Linked DNA regions of Homo sapiens: region 2 is linked to region 1. A link means that fine-mapping ties the variant in region 1 to the expression of a gene that starts in the linked region. Tissue or cell type: sigmoid colon. Region 1 holds a variant in brackets; the other region holds the start of a gene. All regions are shown on one strand. Distances are from middle to middle.

Region 1 (8,107 bases):
AAAGGGCTGCGCCTCGGTTCACCCCTCCACTTGCACTTGCCCGCCCACCCTCACTCGGCCTCCGCATCGTCTCCCAAAACATTTCTCAGAATGTGCTTCCCCAGACGTCCCTCACCAGGGCGTCTGCAGATTCCCAGATCCCTGAGTCCGACTTTTTCCTTTCGGTAATTCTTAATACCCAGGAAGTCCGAGAAACAATGGTCTAGACAGTGACTCCCAATGGCTGTGGGAGTAAAGTGGAGGAGGTAGAGGGCTAGGGATAGGGAAGGCAGAAGGCAACGCGGGATCTGGGGAGAGGGGGGCTTGAGTGGTTTTGAAAACATTCAGCATGGGAATCCAGGCTCACGTTTGAGAACCACGCATCGAAGTCCAATTATTTAATAGAACAAACTGTAGCAGGCAAACTCCATGAAAACCTCCTAGGAAGGCCTAGTGACCTGCGCTCCCCCCAGGAACTTCCGCTCCTGACTCCAGGCCAGGACTGCCAGAGAACCTTGCGGCTCTTTTCCTGCTCATCGAAAGGGGGTGTGGCTTTTTAAAAGGTAGAAACACTGATCCTCAACCGTGATTCCCAAACCTGGCTGGCACAAGTCTCGCCTCTACTTTTAGCTCACTCCACGCCCTGGTTTTGGAATCACTGACATAGCCTGAAGGCTGTGGCAGGATTTGCACGATTTTCGTGGCCAGCATCTACTGTGCTCTTTTTCCCAGCCCCTCCCACCTCTGCAACTCTGGCCACTATGGTATCACTGTTACCTTTGCAGGTAACACCTGCAAAGGGCTGAGTGGAAGCCCAGGTCTCCTCACCAAAGCCCTCCGGGTCAGTGAGGCATTGAGGCCAGAGTCTGTGGCTGCGAGGAGCAGGCTAACTCCTCTGGCATGGAGGAGATGCTGAATATTATTTCTTGAAGAAATGGTCACCTGCTATTTTGTTATTTTCACCTGACCAATTCTGTGCCTGCCTGCCTGCCTGCCTGCTCTGATGGTTCAGTGGAGTTCCGATGCTCTGTCTCCAGTTAATTCCCTCAACCGTTAGAATCAAAGTAGTAGTTTTTTCATCCATCCATTTATTCACTCTTTCATGAACTTGAACCTTGTAAGATAAGGAGGGACAGCTTTGCCTGATGACTAGGAACGTGGAGGCAGGCAGGCCTGACTAATTCAGACTCAGGCTGCGTACAGGTTAACTTCTCCGAGCTTCAGTTTCCTCATCTATAAAATGGGGATAATGACAGCTCCTACTTAATGGTATTGTTGCAGGGATTAAAAGGATGATATGGCAAGTGCTTAACAGTCACCTTGTATTATTATTTCAGACACTATGCTAGAAAAAGAGATGTATAAAAAGCATATGAAGACAGGGCTCCTGGCTAGTACTTGGCAGTGAAAGCTGGTCTGAATCAGCAGGGGGCTGGGCAGGTGGGCATGAATGAATAGATAAGAACCCTTTGTAACTACCCACATCCATTTCTATGTAATCACTATGTAAAGTTCTTAAAACCAGTTCTTTATCTTACCTACATTAAATAGCCCTTCCCCACCCTTAATACTACATATACCACAAATCCTTTTGGGAAACAATTTTTCTTTTCAGAGTTAGACCAGAGGTAAATGTCAGCTGCAGCTGAATTCTCATAAAATCCAATTTAGTGGAATCTGAATGAAGTCTGTAAACTTCATAACCCATTATAAAAGATTCCCCAGGCTGGGTGCAGTGGCTCATGCCTGTAATCCCAGCACTTTGTGAGGCCGAGGCAGGTGGATCACGAGGTCAAGAGATCAAGACCATCCTGGCCAATATGGTGAAACCCCATTTCTACTAAAAATAAAAAAATTAGTCGGGCGTGGTGGCGGGCGCCTGTAGTCCTAGCTACTCGGGAGGCTGGGGCAGAAGAATCACTTGAACCCGGGAGGCAGAGGTTGCAGTGAGCCGGGATTGTGCCACTGCACTCCAGCCTGTCGACAGAGCAAGACTCCGTCTCGAAAAAAAAAACCCCCAAAACAAACCCTTATACAACAACCCTATCTAAACCAGCACCCACTCAGACCTCACCCTGCTGTTTTCTCTCCTTTACCTTCCTTTATTTTCTTCGTATCACTTATCACCATCTGTTATGTCATATGTGTATTTATCTGTTCCCTCTACTCAGATGTTAGCTCCATAAAAGGTATGGAGTACCCCCAGTGTCTAGAGCTGTGTCTGACACATAGTAGGCATTAGTAAATATTTGTGGCATGAATAAATTAGCTGATACATCATTGAAGATAGTCCAATGACCTTGCAAATTATTTACAGGTTGTAAATCTTCCTGTCCTAAGAGATCACCCGCCAAAGAGCCATCAGAAGATAATTACAGCTCTTGCCTTTATGAGATGCCTTTCTCTTTCAGCCTCTCTGGGTATCTTTCTCCAGGGCTGTGGCCCAATCTTATTTAATCACAAGATCTTAACAGATACCAACAGGATTGCAGCAGCTACTTAATCTGCCTTCCAAAAAGTGCAGTTCAGCCTCTCCCCGTATAGAGACAGCCAGCCCAAACCAGCTCAGATCATTTCAGTGTCATTGCTCTAATACAGAACTAAAAAGAAATCAGAACTGAGAGTTCTGCCCCACAGTAACATCTGCTTCTAGTTTAGATTTTTGTACAGCCTGAGAAGCTACTCCAGTGAGAAGAACCTGTTTCAATCCATGGGCTATCCTATCCTTCCTCACCAACCAACCCCAGGAGAAGAAAGACCACCTTCTCCCACTGTCACATTTACATGGGGCAAGGTCAGAAATGAGCTTTATAACTAGGAGAAATAAAAGTAATAAAAGCTTAAAGACAAGGTATTTCATATACTAGGGAATGAAAAACGTCTTATAAGCAATACCACACTTTGCCCTACCAAATTAATTTTATTCCAAACGCAGTCTTTTGTTTTTTCTAATTTAAAACAAGCTAGGGAGTTAGTACATTTCTTTTTTTTTTTGGAGACGGAGTCTCACGCCGTTGCCCAGGCTGGAGTGCAGTGGTGCAATCTCAGCTCATTGCAAGCTCCACCTCTTGAATTCAAGCGATTCTCCTGCCTCAGTCTCTGGAGTAGCTGGGATTACAGGTGCCCGCCACCATGCCTGGCTAATTTTTGTATCTTTTTTTTTTTTTTTTTTTTGAGACAGAGTCTCACTCTGTCACCCAGGCCGGAGTGCAATGGCACGGTCTCGGCTCACTGCAACCTCTGCCTTCTGCATTCAAGCGATTCTCCTACCTCAGCCTCCCGAGTAGCTGGGATTACAGGCGCTTGCCACCACACGCAGCTAATATTTGTATTTTTAGTAGAGACGGGGGTTTGCCCATGTTGGCCAGGCTGGTCTCGAACTCCTGACCTCGTGATCCACCTGCCTCGGCCTCCCAAAGTGCTAGAATTACAGGCGTGAGTCACCGTGCCCGGCCGAGAGTTAGTACATTTCACAACGTAAGCTAGGTCTTTTCCTTTTTTTATTTAATTCTATATCCTTTTCCTTTAATTCTATATTCCCCCGAACAACCTCTCACTTTCAAGTTTTAGCACCCTGGCCCTCAACCTGAACACACACACACACACACACACACACACACACACACACACACACAGAATAAACCTTGGAAAGTCTGGGCTCTGTGTAAGAGGATTTTAACATACCTATGTAAAATCCACATGCTTCCACTTAAAGAGCTGAGTGACCTTTTACAATTTAATGAACCTCTTTCAGCCACATTTTTCTCATCTGTGAGTTGAAGATCAGACTGTCTGACGGACTCATAGTTGATATAAGGATTAAATGCGATTGTAACTGAAACAGTTTTAACATCGTCCCTGACACACAGTAAACCTAGAAGAAAAGAATTAGCTATTTTGTTGTTCATCAGGAAATTGAAGTAATTTTTTCTTAATTATATCAAATTTGCCCTATATCTACTATTTATTGAGGAAGTATCACAGTCCCCATTATAAAGATTAAGAAATTTGCCAAGAGTCACCCAACCAACAAGAAGCAAAACCAAAGTTCTGTCTAATCTCATGATTGTACAGCTGGCCACATGCCCACACCTCTTACACAAGAACTGGAATACATTTCCTT[C/CT]TAGGTATATTGTCAGGCCTTTTTGTTATCTCCTTCCTACAATACGGCAAAACAGATGCCTTGCTTGAGATTTATATTCAGAAACTGTTTCTAACTTTGTTCTGCATTGGTGTGGAAGTATATATAATGGTGGTTTTGCATGCACAAGTACATGTATTTGGAGGGCAGAAAGAATACTAGACATGCAAATTCTGAGACAGATAATTATGGTCACTTTATTTCAGACATTGTAATTGTCATCTCTAGCAGTCCAAGTTAATTTTTTTAAATTATCTTCCATGTCCCTACTAGCATGCTCAAGCAATTCTCCACCTTCTTGAATCTATAGAATAGAATTCCAACACTCAGCGGGGCACGGTGGCTTATGCCTGTAATCCCAGTACTTTGGGAGGCCGAGGGGGGCGGGTCACATGAGGCCAGGAGTTCGAGACCAGCCTGGCCAAAATGGTGAAACCCCGTCTCTGGTAAAAAAAATACATAAATTAGCTGGGCATGGTGGCGTGTGCCTGTAATTCCAGCTACTCCAGAGGCTGAGGTAGGAGAATCACTTGAACCCGGAGGCGGAGGTTGCAGTAAGCTGAGATCGTGCCACTGCACTCCAGCATGGGCAACAGAGTGAGACTCTGTCTCACAAAAAATTTTTTTTAAAGAATTATAATACTTGTTTTACTGTCCATGTCTACTGATTGTGTGCCATTTCTGGGTCAGTTTCTATTGATTGTTTTCTACCTACATTAGGGAGGCAAAATCCTTCCCTATGAATTACAAGGTGTTTCCCCCGGTTGGCGGGAACATAAACTCTTTCTAGTCCTGCCTCAAGCAGTTTCCTCACTCAGTTCTCAGCTGAAGATTCAAGGGGAATTCTCTGCAAGTCTCTGAAGTGCTCTCTCTGTCTCTCCTCTCTCTTCTCTCCTCTTTCTTCTCTCTCTCTCTCTCTCTCTCTGTGTGTGTGTGTGTGTGTGTGTGTGTGTCTGTGTTTCTCTCCTCTTGGTCCACTAGTAACCTTGGCATCTTTAGACTAACCTTGGCATCTCTAGACTCCCACCTGCACCTCTCCAACTCTGGGAGACAACAAGGATCCCTTTTCTTGCATTGCAGCATGGAAATGAGTCTCTCTAGGCATTAAGCTGGGAACTCTCAGGGCTCACCTCATTTATCTCCCATCTCTTAGAGATCACTGTTCTGTGCCAGCAAAGTCCAACATCTGAAAACTACTGTTGCATGTATTTTGTTTTAGTTGTGTCAGGTGGGAGGGTAAATCTAATCCCTTAGCATAACGGAACTACAGTCAATTCCAAACTACAGTCAATTTAAGGATGAGAATTCTGAGGCCTGGAGAGGGTAAGTAACTTGCCCAGGTCACCCACTAGTAATCAGTAGAGCTGGGTCTCTAATCGGCTTCTGCCTGGCTCCAGAATCCCAACTTTCAAATACCATGCTCTCCTGCCTTCCTGTGAGCTCAGCCTTGAGTTCCACATCTCTCTACAAAATGGCATGAGCTTTGTGAGAGAGGTTTGTTTCTCTTGTGTTCTGACCTTTGTATCCTGACCCCTTTGCAGCTTAAACCCAAGTTGGAACTAGGGTGCTGTTTCAGAGAGCCGAGGTGGACAGATTCCACACTGGTGGCCCATTACCAGTGAGCTGACAGGACAGCTGCAAGGTGCTTCTTAAATGGTAAATGTCATCCACGTAGGAGCATCATAAACTCACTTGTTCACTCATTCATCCAACAAACGTTTATTTAGAGCCTACTATATGCCAGGCACTGTGCTAAGTGCTGGTCTTACGGCATTGAACAAGAGTGACATGGAGTTTACTATCCAGTAGAGAGAGAACAAATGAATAAGTAAATAGAAAAGAACATTTCAGATGGTGGTGAATGCTGAGCTACATATAGCAGGTGTGTGGACCAGCACATACCCTGAGTACTTGTCTAAAACACAATTCTAGCATGTATTTGCTCACACAGACTCCTTTTCCCATTCTTACACTCACATGAGCTCCCTAATAAGAAGGGCTTTGGAAGAATAAAACAGAGTAATAAGATAAAGAGTGACAGGGAGGGGCTGCTCTAGGCTGGATGATCAGACATGGTGAGGCCCAATGACAAGATTTTACATCTATTGCAGTTTGAGGGAAGGAGCATTCCACGCAAAGGGAACAGCAAATGCAAAAACTCTACGCAGTACCTCTTTTTTCTCCTGGGCATGTGTGTCCACGTGTGCATACACACAGACACACAAATCTGAAAACTTGTCAATATCTTTTATTTCTACATGTACAGGTTCTTGAAGATGGCACTTTTAGGAACTCAAGGGTAGGGCCAGGATGCCAACAGATCAGGGTCCCAGCCTCCACCCCTCTGAGGCTCAAGTCTACTCTCTACTTCTCAAGGTCACTGTGAAGAGCAAATGAGATGAGATATAGTCTCTTCATATATCTGGTCCATTGCAGAATATAGGCATAAGTGACTTCCTACTCAACAGTATAAAAATGCTTAAAATTTTTACCTAGGGTGGAGCTTATAAAAGGTAGCAATACACTGATATTGAGAATTAAATTTTTTTTTGTCAAAATTAGGAAGAAAAATCACTTCTATTTCAGCAGAGATAATTGATCATTCTACCTACATTTTGTTTACTATAGGTAGTCAGAGGCTTTCAGTATAACATAAAAGTCAAGTGTACAGGCCTGGATATAGATGAGCTGACTCTAACACACACCTGCTGTGTGACCTTGAGCAGGTTACTAAACCTCTCTGAGGAAAAATAGGACCCATCATATGAGGTGTGTGTGAGGATCAATTGGGGTAATGAATGCAAAGGGCTGGGCACAGCCCTTGGCACATGCTAAGTCCTCACAAAGCTATAACCATTGGCTGCCTGCAAAGGGAACTTTCATTCTTCAGCCTCTGGGAAAATCTTTCCACTCTGACATTTCCTCTAAAAAATAACATTTCATGTTCCTTATGTGACCAAGAGGCTCCTCTGTCTCCTTTCTCACCCTCATTCCCTCTGAATGGCTGGTTGGATGACTGTAAAGTGAGGAAGAGGAGAGTCCACACTGAACAAGGCAACCCGCTCCCAGTGCCTGAGGGGTGGGGAGGTGTCACTGCCCACAGGCGCTGTGAGCCTGGGACTGCCTGGGTCTAGCCCATGCGGGTGTGGGCATGGAGCCCAGCTGACCGAGGCAGCTGGGAACTGTTTGCTAATAGGCCGGGGAGCAGCAGATGCAAAGTGAGGGCTCATGTTTGCACAGGCCATCGCCATGGCAACAGGAAAGTCAACAGGCAGGACATTCCTTAAGCTGTAGAAAACCCTTCCGCCCCAACCCTGCACTTCAGGTGAGGGAAGCGGTCCCACACTGAGCAGTAAGCAGATCCTCAAAGGCCAGAACTTTAGTAGAAAAGCCAAAAAGAAAATCTGGGCCCAAAATACACAAATATTTTGAAAACACATATAGTTTATTCCCAGATGGTTAAAAAAAAAAAGTTTGTTTCTGAAATGTACAGGTAATCTGACCAAGGTGTGTGTATTGGTTAGTTGGTGGAAACTAAGCTAATGATCATGATTCCCAGCTGAGGATGGGGAGGCACACTGCTTACAAAAGAGCAGAGGCGGTGGAGGGGCAGGAAATCATGCCTTGTTCATTACAGAGCTGACGCAGGGTCGGCCTTCCACTGCAAGACAGTAAACTATGCAGTGGAATCTGCAGGATGAGAGATAATGTTCTAATTTTTAGTGAAAACACCTCCTCCAATGACCTGGCCATAGGGTCTGAAGTTCTCATCTTGTTCACTCCTTCAAGTAAGTCACTGATGGCCTTCAGTCCAAAAGTCAGTGTTACCGGGAAATTAACTATTAGCAGCTATTATAGCATCACCCGATTAATTTCTCAGAAAGTGCCTTGAAGCAGGACCTTGAAGGACTGAGCCACAGGACAGGTAAGTTTTGTACAGGAAAAGAATTGGCAGAAGATGCAGGGTGTGGCTCAGAGGGCAGGCCT
Region 2 (8,107 bases), 39 kb after region 1:
TGATGGCGGGCGCCTGTAATCCCAGCTACTTAGGAGGCTGAGGCAGGAGAATCGCTTGAACCCAGGAGGTGGAGGTTGCAGTGAGCCGAGATCATACCATTGCACTCCAGCCTGGGTGACAGAGCGAGACTCCATCTAAAAAATAAATAAATAAATAAAAATGAAATATGCATATTCACAAAGACACGCACCACAGGGACACCCACTGCAGTACTGTTGCTAACAGGCAGTAGTTGGGACAACTTATATGTCTAGAGCAAAAGATCAAGAAGGATTCAAATCAAATTGTTCAGAGTGGTGACCCTGAAGGACTAACAGTGGGAGAGAGAAAGAATAGAAGAGGTGTGGGGAGAATTTTCACTTTTTAGTTGCATAATCCCTTCTGGGTTGTTTATCTTATGTCTACATGCATTTTTAATTTTAGAAATTAAAAATATTATATTATTTAAAATTAAAAAGTTTTTTAACAACCTGTTCTGTTTGGAGGACTGTTTGGAAGAATCATCAAGTCTCAGAGTTGAAATTGGTCTCAGAGGTCTGTGTAGTCTAATCTCAGCTAGATTCAGCTTCACAGCCTGGCTGTCCGCATGGAACTTAGGGCAGAATGGCCACCCCTGGCTCACAGGCACTCACTCCAGCCTCAATTCGGATCTGGCTCATGGAACCTGGTGTACCCGAAGGATATGAAAAATTACATAAGCGTTGTGGCTTTCATAATCTACACCTGCGCTGCTGAACATCACCAACAACCATGCACCAGGACTACAGCAACCCCCAGATCCTCCTAGTTCCTACCAGGCCCTGAGTAATTTGACAGCCTCAGAAGGGTCACTCACGGTTGAACACAACTGGGCGCTCATACCTGTAATCCCAATACTTTGGGAGGCCAAGCCAGGAGGATTGCTTGAGCCCAAGAGTTCAAGGCCAGCTTGAGAAACAGAGTGAGGCCCTGTCTCTACAAAAAAAATTAAAAATTAGCTGGGCATGGTGGTGTGTGCCTATAGTTCAGCTACTCAGGAGGCTGAGGTGGGAGGATCGCTTGAGCCCAGGAGTTCGAGACCATGATCACACCACTGACTGCACTCTTCCCTCCTGGATGGCAGGGTGAAACAGTCTCAAAAAAAAAAAAAAAAAAGAAAGAAAGAAAGAAAGGGTTTGAACACGAAAAACTGAGGTCAACTGTAAACCAGTTGGTTGTCAGTACAGCACAATCCCAAGTACAGTGTAGCTATAGCCTAATAGGGCCTCACAGTGTCTATGCGAGCTTCACCATTAACAATCACTTCCCCTGGCCATTCTTCACCGTCTTATAGTTTGAGAAGAGCTGCTTACTGCCCTGACTTTGTTTATTTACCCAAGAGGCAAAATGTTTACATATTTCTGTTAACACAGGGACTTTCTTTGATGCCGCCTTGATCTTCTGGTATGGCTTTTTCCTTTTTTTTTTTTTGAGATGGAGTCTCGTTCTATCTCCCAGGCTGGAGTGCAGTGGTGCGATCTCTGCTCACTGGAACCTCCGCCTCCCAGGCTCAAGTGATTCTCCTGCCTCAGCCTCCTGAGTAGCTGGGACTACAGGCATGGTAGGGCTTTTTCCAGTTTACCATACCCTGCCCCACTCCACACTATGAAGTGTGTCTGCCTTTGTTCCATGTTCCCTCTGATGGACAGTATTTTGCTATAAGTATCCTCAGTTCAGTCAGAACTTAATGTTACTTAATTTTACGCAGTGCTCAAAATTGGGAACACACCTGTAAAGGGTTTGCCATCACCAGGATTTTAAACCACCGACATAGACTGAAAGCAAGAAGAGTGCTGTGTTTGTTGCTATATCCCCTCCAGCACCTAAGGCAATGCATTTCACATCTTGCTGAGAGCAGCTAACTCAATACCTGGAACTAGAAAATTAGAATCTAAAAGACGGAAGGCATCTAAAGACCAGTTCCCATCATGCCACAGCTGAGAAATTGGAGACCCAGGTGGTTAAATCAGATATTGAGTTAATGTCAGCTGGAATGCAGATGTTCCTACTCTGAGTTGAGTGCCCTTTCCTCTGTCAGGTTGCTTGTTAGCTAAATGAATGAATGACTTTACCACTCGATTTGTATGAAAAAAGGAGGCCAGAAAAGAGACTAAAGTTAAATGTGTAATTGTTTGTATAGACTATATTTGCCAACTTAACTGAAGTTTTCCACTTTCAATTGATTGTTTGCATTCATTGACTTAGATATATTTTTCATCATTTAAAATGTTTCATCAATGCATACAAACTCCAGACAAATAACAAGTCAGATTTCAATATAGTATTAACTCCAATTCCTCTATAATCTATAATACTTAAATAATTACATGATCGGACTGATCCAAATATATTTTAATGTCTTTATATGTCAATGATGAAGGATGTAAAATCTTCATATTATGTCTCTATTATGTAACTGCTTCAAGAAAACAAAAAATTAATAAAACCTAACACATGTAAATAAACTCTGACATAACGTGAGTCCATGATATTCACTAGCCAGATTTTCAAACCTCATTGTCCTTTAAGAGCCCAATTTTAAGCTGGGCGTGGTAGTTTACGCCTGTAATCCCAACACTTTGGGAAGCTGAGATGGGAAGAAAGTTTGAGCAAGGGAATTATAACCAGCCTGGGCAACATAGCAAGACCCAGTCTTATTCAAAAAAATTTTTTTAAATTTTTTTTAAATCCAATTTTTGCCCTTTAGATTTTTTTTTTAACCAACCAACAATTTGCCAGCTTTTTTTTTTTTTTTTTTTTTTTTTTGAGACGGAGTCTCACTCTGTTGCCCAGGTTGGAGTGCAGTAGCATGATCTCGGCTCACTGCAACCTCCTCCTCCTGGGTTGAAGCAATCCTCCTGCCTCAGCCTCCCGAGTAGCTGGGATTATAGGCATGTGCCACCATGCCCGGCTAATTTTTGTATTTTTAGTAGAGATGGGGTTTTGCCATGTTGGCCTGGCTGGTCTCGAACTCCTGCCCTCATGTGATCCACCCACCTCAGCCTCCCAAAGTTCTGGGATTACAGGCAGAAGTCACCACACCCAGCCAGCCAGCTTTGAGTTTCATTTCTTTCATTTTCTTGCTCATCCTCAGAGAGAGAGGTTTAAGAAGAGAAATAAAGGGGAAAAACGGGAAACAGAAAGGCGAAAGGTATAGATGCCTCAGGAACTGACAGGGAGTAGCAGTCAGGCTCCTGGAAGAAACGAGAAATGTAGCAAGGCATGGTCAGGAAACACATGTCTATCCATGCTCCCACTCTCTCTGCCTTTCCCTCTCTTTCCCATCCCTCTTGCCAAGAAGTGAGTTGGCAGTCTTACCAATGACAAACAAAATAGATAAAGCCTCCACACTGAGATTTAGAAACCCCACTTTAGCCAAAACTAAGTCACTTACATCAAATTGTACCATGACACCAAGCATTCCTGTCCCCTCCCCTGCAATGGCAATCAAGTGTCATAGAAAAATAGCCTTTTAAAATTACCATGAGCCTTTTATTTTTATTTATTTTTACACCCAGGCTGGAGTGCAGTGGCGTGATCACGGCTCACTGTAGCCTCAAACTCCTGGGCTCAAGCAATCCTCCTGCCTTGGCCTCCCAAAGTTGGCTCAGGGTTGAGGAGCCACTGTGCTCAGCCAACCATGAGGTTTTTAGAGATGATCTTGTCTAAACCCTTCTCGCCTGTTTTGCAGAAAAGAAAATTGAGATCCCAGAGAAATGAAGTAACTTGCCCAAGGTCATTCAGCAGGCAAGATAGAACTAGATCCCCAAATTGCAAACTAGCTGTCCAGAGTTCTTTCCTCAATGAGCAATTTAAAAGCTACAGAATGTACAAAAAAAGCTCCCCAACAGTTTAGATATAAAAACAATTACAAAGGCACAAAAGGGCAGGAAAACTCAATAAAACTATGAACTTCACCCATCCCACCTCCCAGAAACCCAGTGACAATCAAAGCAGCGTCAGGCTGGTTCAAGGAGTAATGGTGTCTCCAACAATTTAATTGCTCTTCTTCCTCCTTTACCCATTTCTCACAGGCAGAGAAAAAATGCATCTAAGACTACTGAAACTTACTTTGAACCAATACAGATGTTTGTTGATACCTGAAATTTAGTGATTCGCAAATACGTTTTCTGCCAAGAGCTTACAGAAATCACACTCTTAGAGCTAAAACATCAGGTCATTCCATGAGTCTCAAGCCCTGGAGAAAATTAAATGCCTTCCCCAGAAACGGGTCCTCTCCCCTGTCCTGCGCAGGTAACAAACGCTGCTGGAGAGACTTGGCTTCATCAGCTGTCTAAATGCAGACTTTTCAAGAAGGTGACTCAAGAAACTAACATTCCAAAACAGGACTTCAGAAAAAGAAGAAAACTTTTTCTTACCCTTAAAAATGACAGAAACAATAGGATCCGGCTTGCCAAATTTCGTTTTAGGGATATTGCTGGCAGATTCCACAATCACTCGCAGCATGGTTCTTAGCTGGTAGAAAGCAAGTTTCAGCAAACGAAGTGGAGACTAGGGCGCTGGAGCTCCGGGTCGCACCGCCCTGGGAGAGAAGTTCTCTCCCAGTGAAGGGAGGATTTCTCCCAGGGCAAGGAAGGGGAAAAGGCAAAATGGGTGGACCTCTGGCGGATTTTACTGAAGGCAACGTGTAAACTGATACCGAACTCCCCGCGTCTACGCAGTGCCGCAGGCACAGACTTATGAATTCGGGAAATGTGGAAGTGAAAAGGACAAACCCTAAACTAAAAATAATTCCGTGCGACAAATGAAACCAACATGAATTTGGAGCTAAGAAATACGGGTAGGTCAGGAAACCACTAAAATGTTGCTGCCTTTTAGCAATGGTTCGTGAAACTGAATTAATTGATTTTTCCGTCACTGCTTTCATTCTTTTCTGAGTTTCAAGGAGTTTTAAAACTTTAGTCATTATTTGCTTTTGACTTTTCGCTGTTACTTCTCACGCCATTGAACACACCCACTCAGTAACCCTATGTTCAGCTTTTTTAAAGCAGCTAAAGGGTGCCTCTTACTGGACGGCAAACGAATGACAGCGTTTATTTCAAGTAAACGCGATCCAGGCATGGGATATATAAATAATTACATATATGTATAAATAATTATATATATATATATATATATATATATATATATATATATATATATATATATATATATATAAAGGACTGAACATAGAATTTCTTCAAAACCCCTTCAGAGGTGAGAGCTGGGCGCCTAAGTTTTCCCGGCTCTTCAAATGCTGCCAATTGCCTTCAGTGAAAATGGAGAAGTGACTCCCCACTGTTTCTGGACCTACAGCTGCCCATGGTGTCTTTCTGTCCCAGAGGGTGCATGAAGACAGTGCAGCTTGGCTGAGATCACAAGAGGCGGCCTGGGGTTAGTCAGCCAGATCTGAGTGTGAGACTCTGCCTCACCACCCTGAGCTACGTCATCTTAGCAAGTTTCTTTTCTTTTCTTTTCTTTTCTTTTTTTTTTTTGACGGAGTCTCGCTCTGTCACCAGGCTGGAGTGCAGTGTAGCGATCTTGGCTCACTGCAACCTCTGCCTCCCGGGTTCAAGCGATTCTCCTGCCTCAGTCTCCCGAGTAGCTGGGACTACAGGCGTGCGCCACCACACGCAGCTAATTTTTTTTTTTTTTGTATTTTTAGTAGAGACGGGGTTTCACCATGCTGGCAAGGATGGTCTCGATCTCTTGACCTTGTGATCCGCCCGCCTCGGCCTCCGTGGCTTGAGCTTTACTGGCTTGAGCTTTACTGGCTTGAGCCACCGTGCTGGCGAGCAAGTTTCTTAACCCCTCTCTTCCTCAGTTTCCTCATCTATGAACTGGGGATAAAGGCTGTTATAAGATAAAGGTCATAGCATAGGAGCTGGCACAAAGCACACAGTAATTTGCACATGTAAGAAGTTCATGCTTATTTGTGGTCTCACAGCGTTTCTGTTAGTGCAGGCTGACTTTAAATCAGGATCTCGTTATATTTCAGAAGAAAAGGCTAAAACTTGGGATGAAGAAACATTGGGCTTCTTTTTGCTTTAGAACACACATCAAGCAGACCCACCTGTAAATAAACATTTCAAGTACATTGAATAAGCATGACTTAACCTACAAGAATTCTTCTGTCTCCACGAGTTTCTCCAAGGCTTAAAGCAAAGAACCAATTACCCAGTGCTGTGTTCATTATTGTATTTAGTGGACATGTTGGCAGTTTTAGTGGAATATAGAGATTATTACTTTTATTTTATCTGGCTGCTTTCTATTTGCCATTTTTACTGTGAAATATATTTACAGAAAAATGCATACTACATAAACGTGACAGTTTAACAAGCATCCAGGTCAAGACAGAACATTGCCAGTCCTCCAGAAGCCCCTGGAATACCCCATATATCATATCCACCTCCTTCTCCCAGAGGTAACCACTCTCCTGATTTTTTTTTCTTTTTTTAGATGGAGTTTCACTCTTGTTGCCCAGGCTGGATTGAAGTGGGGTGATCGGCTCACTGCCACCTCCACCTCCCGGGTTCAAGCAATTCTCCTGCCTCAGCCTCCCAGGTAGCTGGGATTACAGGCGTGCACTACCACACCCGGCTAATTTTGTATTTTTAGTAGAGACAGGGTTTCACCGTGTTGGCCAGGCTGGTCTCAAACTCCTGACCTCAGGTGATCCATCCACCTCGGCCTCCCAAAGTGCTGGGATTACAGGCATGAGCCACCATGCCTGGCCCACTCTCCTGATTTTTATGGTAATGATTTCCTTGCTTTTCTTTGTAGTTTTTACCGAAAACAACAACAACAAAACAGTTTAGGTTTGCTTGCTCATGACCTTTGTTTGGTGATATAAATTCTTTTGTATGTTATGAACTTTACATACAACACATATATTCATATATATAGGTACACACATACATGTGTTCATACTTTGTGAATTCTTTGCTGTATTATGACTTTATAGAAATGGACTCATACAGAATGGATTCTTTCGTGTTTGACTTCTTTTTTCTCAGTATTATATTGTGAAATTCATTCATGTAGCTCTACTTCCTTCACTCTTGTTGCTATATGGCATTTCATTGTATGAGTTTCTGACATTTTATTTATTTATTTATTTTGAGACAGAGTCTTGCTCTGTAGCCCAGGCTGGAGTGCAGTGGTGCGATCTCGTTTCACTGCAACCTCTGCCTCCCGGGTTCAAGCAATTCTCCTGCCTCAGCCTCCTGAGTAGCTGGGATTACAGGTGCACACCACCACGCCCGGCTAATTTTTGTATCTTTAGTAGAGATGGGGTGTCACCATGTTGGCCAGGATGTTCTCGAACTCTTTACCTCGTGATCCGCCTGCCTCAGCCTCCCAAAGTGCTGGGATTACAGGCATGAGCCACTGCGCCTGGCCTCCAGATTTGATTAATTCATTCTACTACTGCCAGACATTTGGACAGTTCAGGGAATGGGGCTATTACAAACAGTGCTGTTCTGAACAGTCCAAGACTGTTCTGGCACAAATGTGCATGAGTCTATTTAGAGTCTAATCTATGGGTGGAATTGCTTGCTGGGCCAGAGAATGTATGCATTTCTTCACCTTTACAAGGTAATTCCAAATTATATTCCACAATGGTACTCTTGCCAGCAGTGTATGAGACTTCCTGTTGTTCTAAATTTTTGTCATACTTAACCAATGTTAGATTTTTTACATTTGCCCTTCTGGTGAGCATATAATAGCATCTCACTGGAGTTTTAATTTGCCTTTTACCTATTCATGTGGGAGAAAAAGACAAATGACTTCCAACCTTACATAATACATAATCAATTACAGGTGGAGTATAAATCTAAATAAGCAAGATAAAACATGTTTCAGCCCAGACACAGTGGTTCATACCTGTAATCTCAACACTTTGGGGAGGCTGAGGTGAGTCTGAGACCAGCCTGGGCAACATAGTGAGACCCTGCCTCTAAAAAAAATTTTTTAAATTAATCGAGTGTGGTGGCATGCACCTGTGGTCCCAGCTACTTGAAAGGCTGAGGTGGGACAACCACTTGAGCCTGGGAAGTCCTGGTGGCAGTGAGCCATGATTGTGCCACT

What was found. PIP is the estimated chance that this variant, and not a neighbour inherited with it, causes the effect.
Region 2: it holds the start of MYOF, and the variant in region 1 is fine-mapped to the expression of MYOF in sigmoid colon (GTEx, PIP above 0.99).

Annotation. Positions count from the first base shown.
Region 1 is chr10:93,438,429-93,446,535 of GRCh38, forward strand. All of the region lies in intron 3 of MYOF (myoferlin), which reads right to left. Among named protein-coding and RNA genes, the nearest start is that of MYOF, 40 kb to the right of the region's middle. The variant C/CT (reference allele first, on the strand shown) is at 4,103.
Region 2 is chr10:93,477,709-93,485,815 of GRCh38, forward strand. MYOF (myoferlin) reads right to left here and starts at 4,626. Exons shown (of 54, transcript NM_013451.4): 1 at 4,399-4,626. The coding sequence starts at 4,486.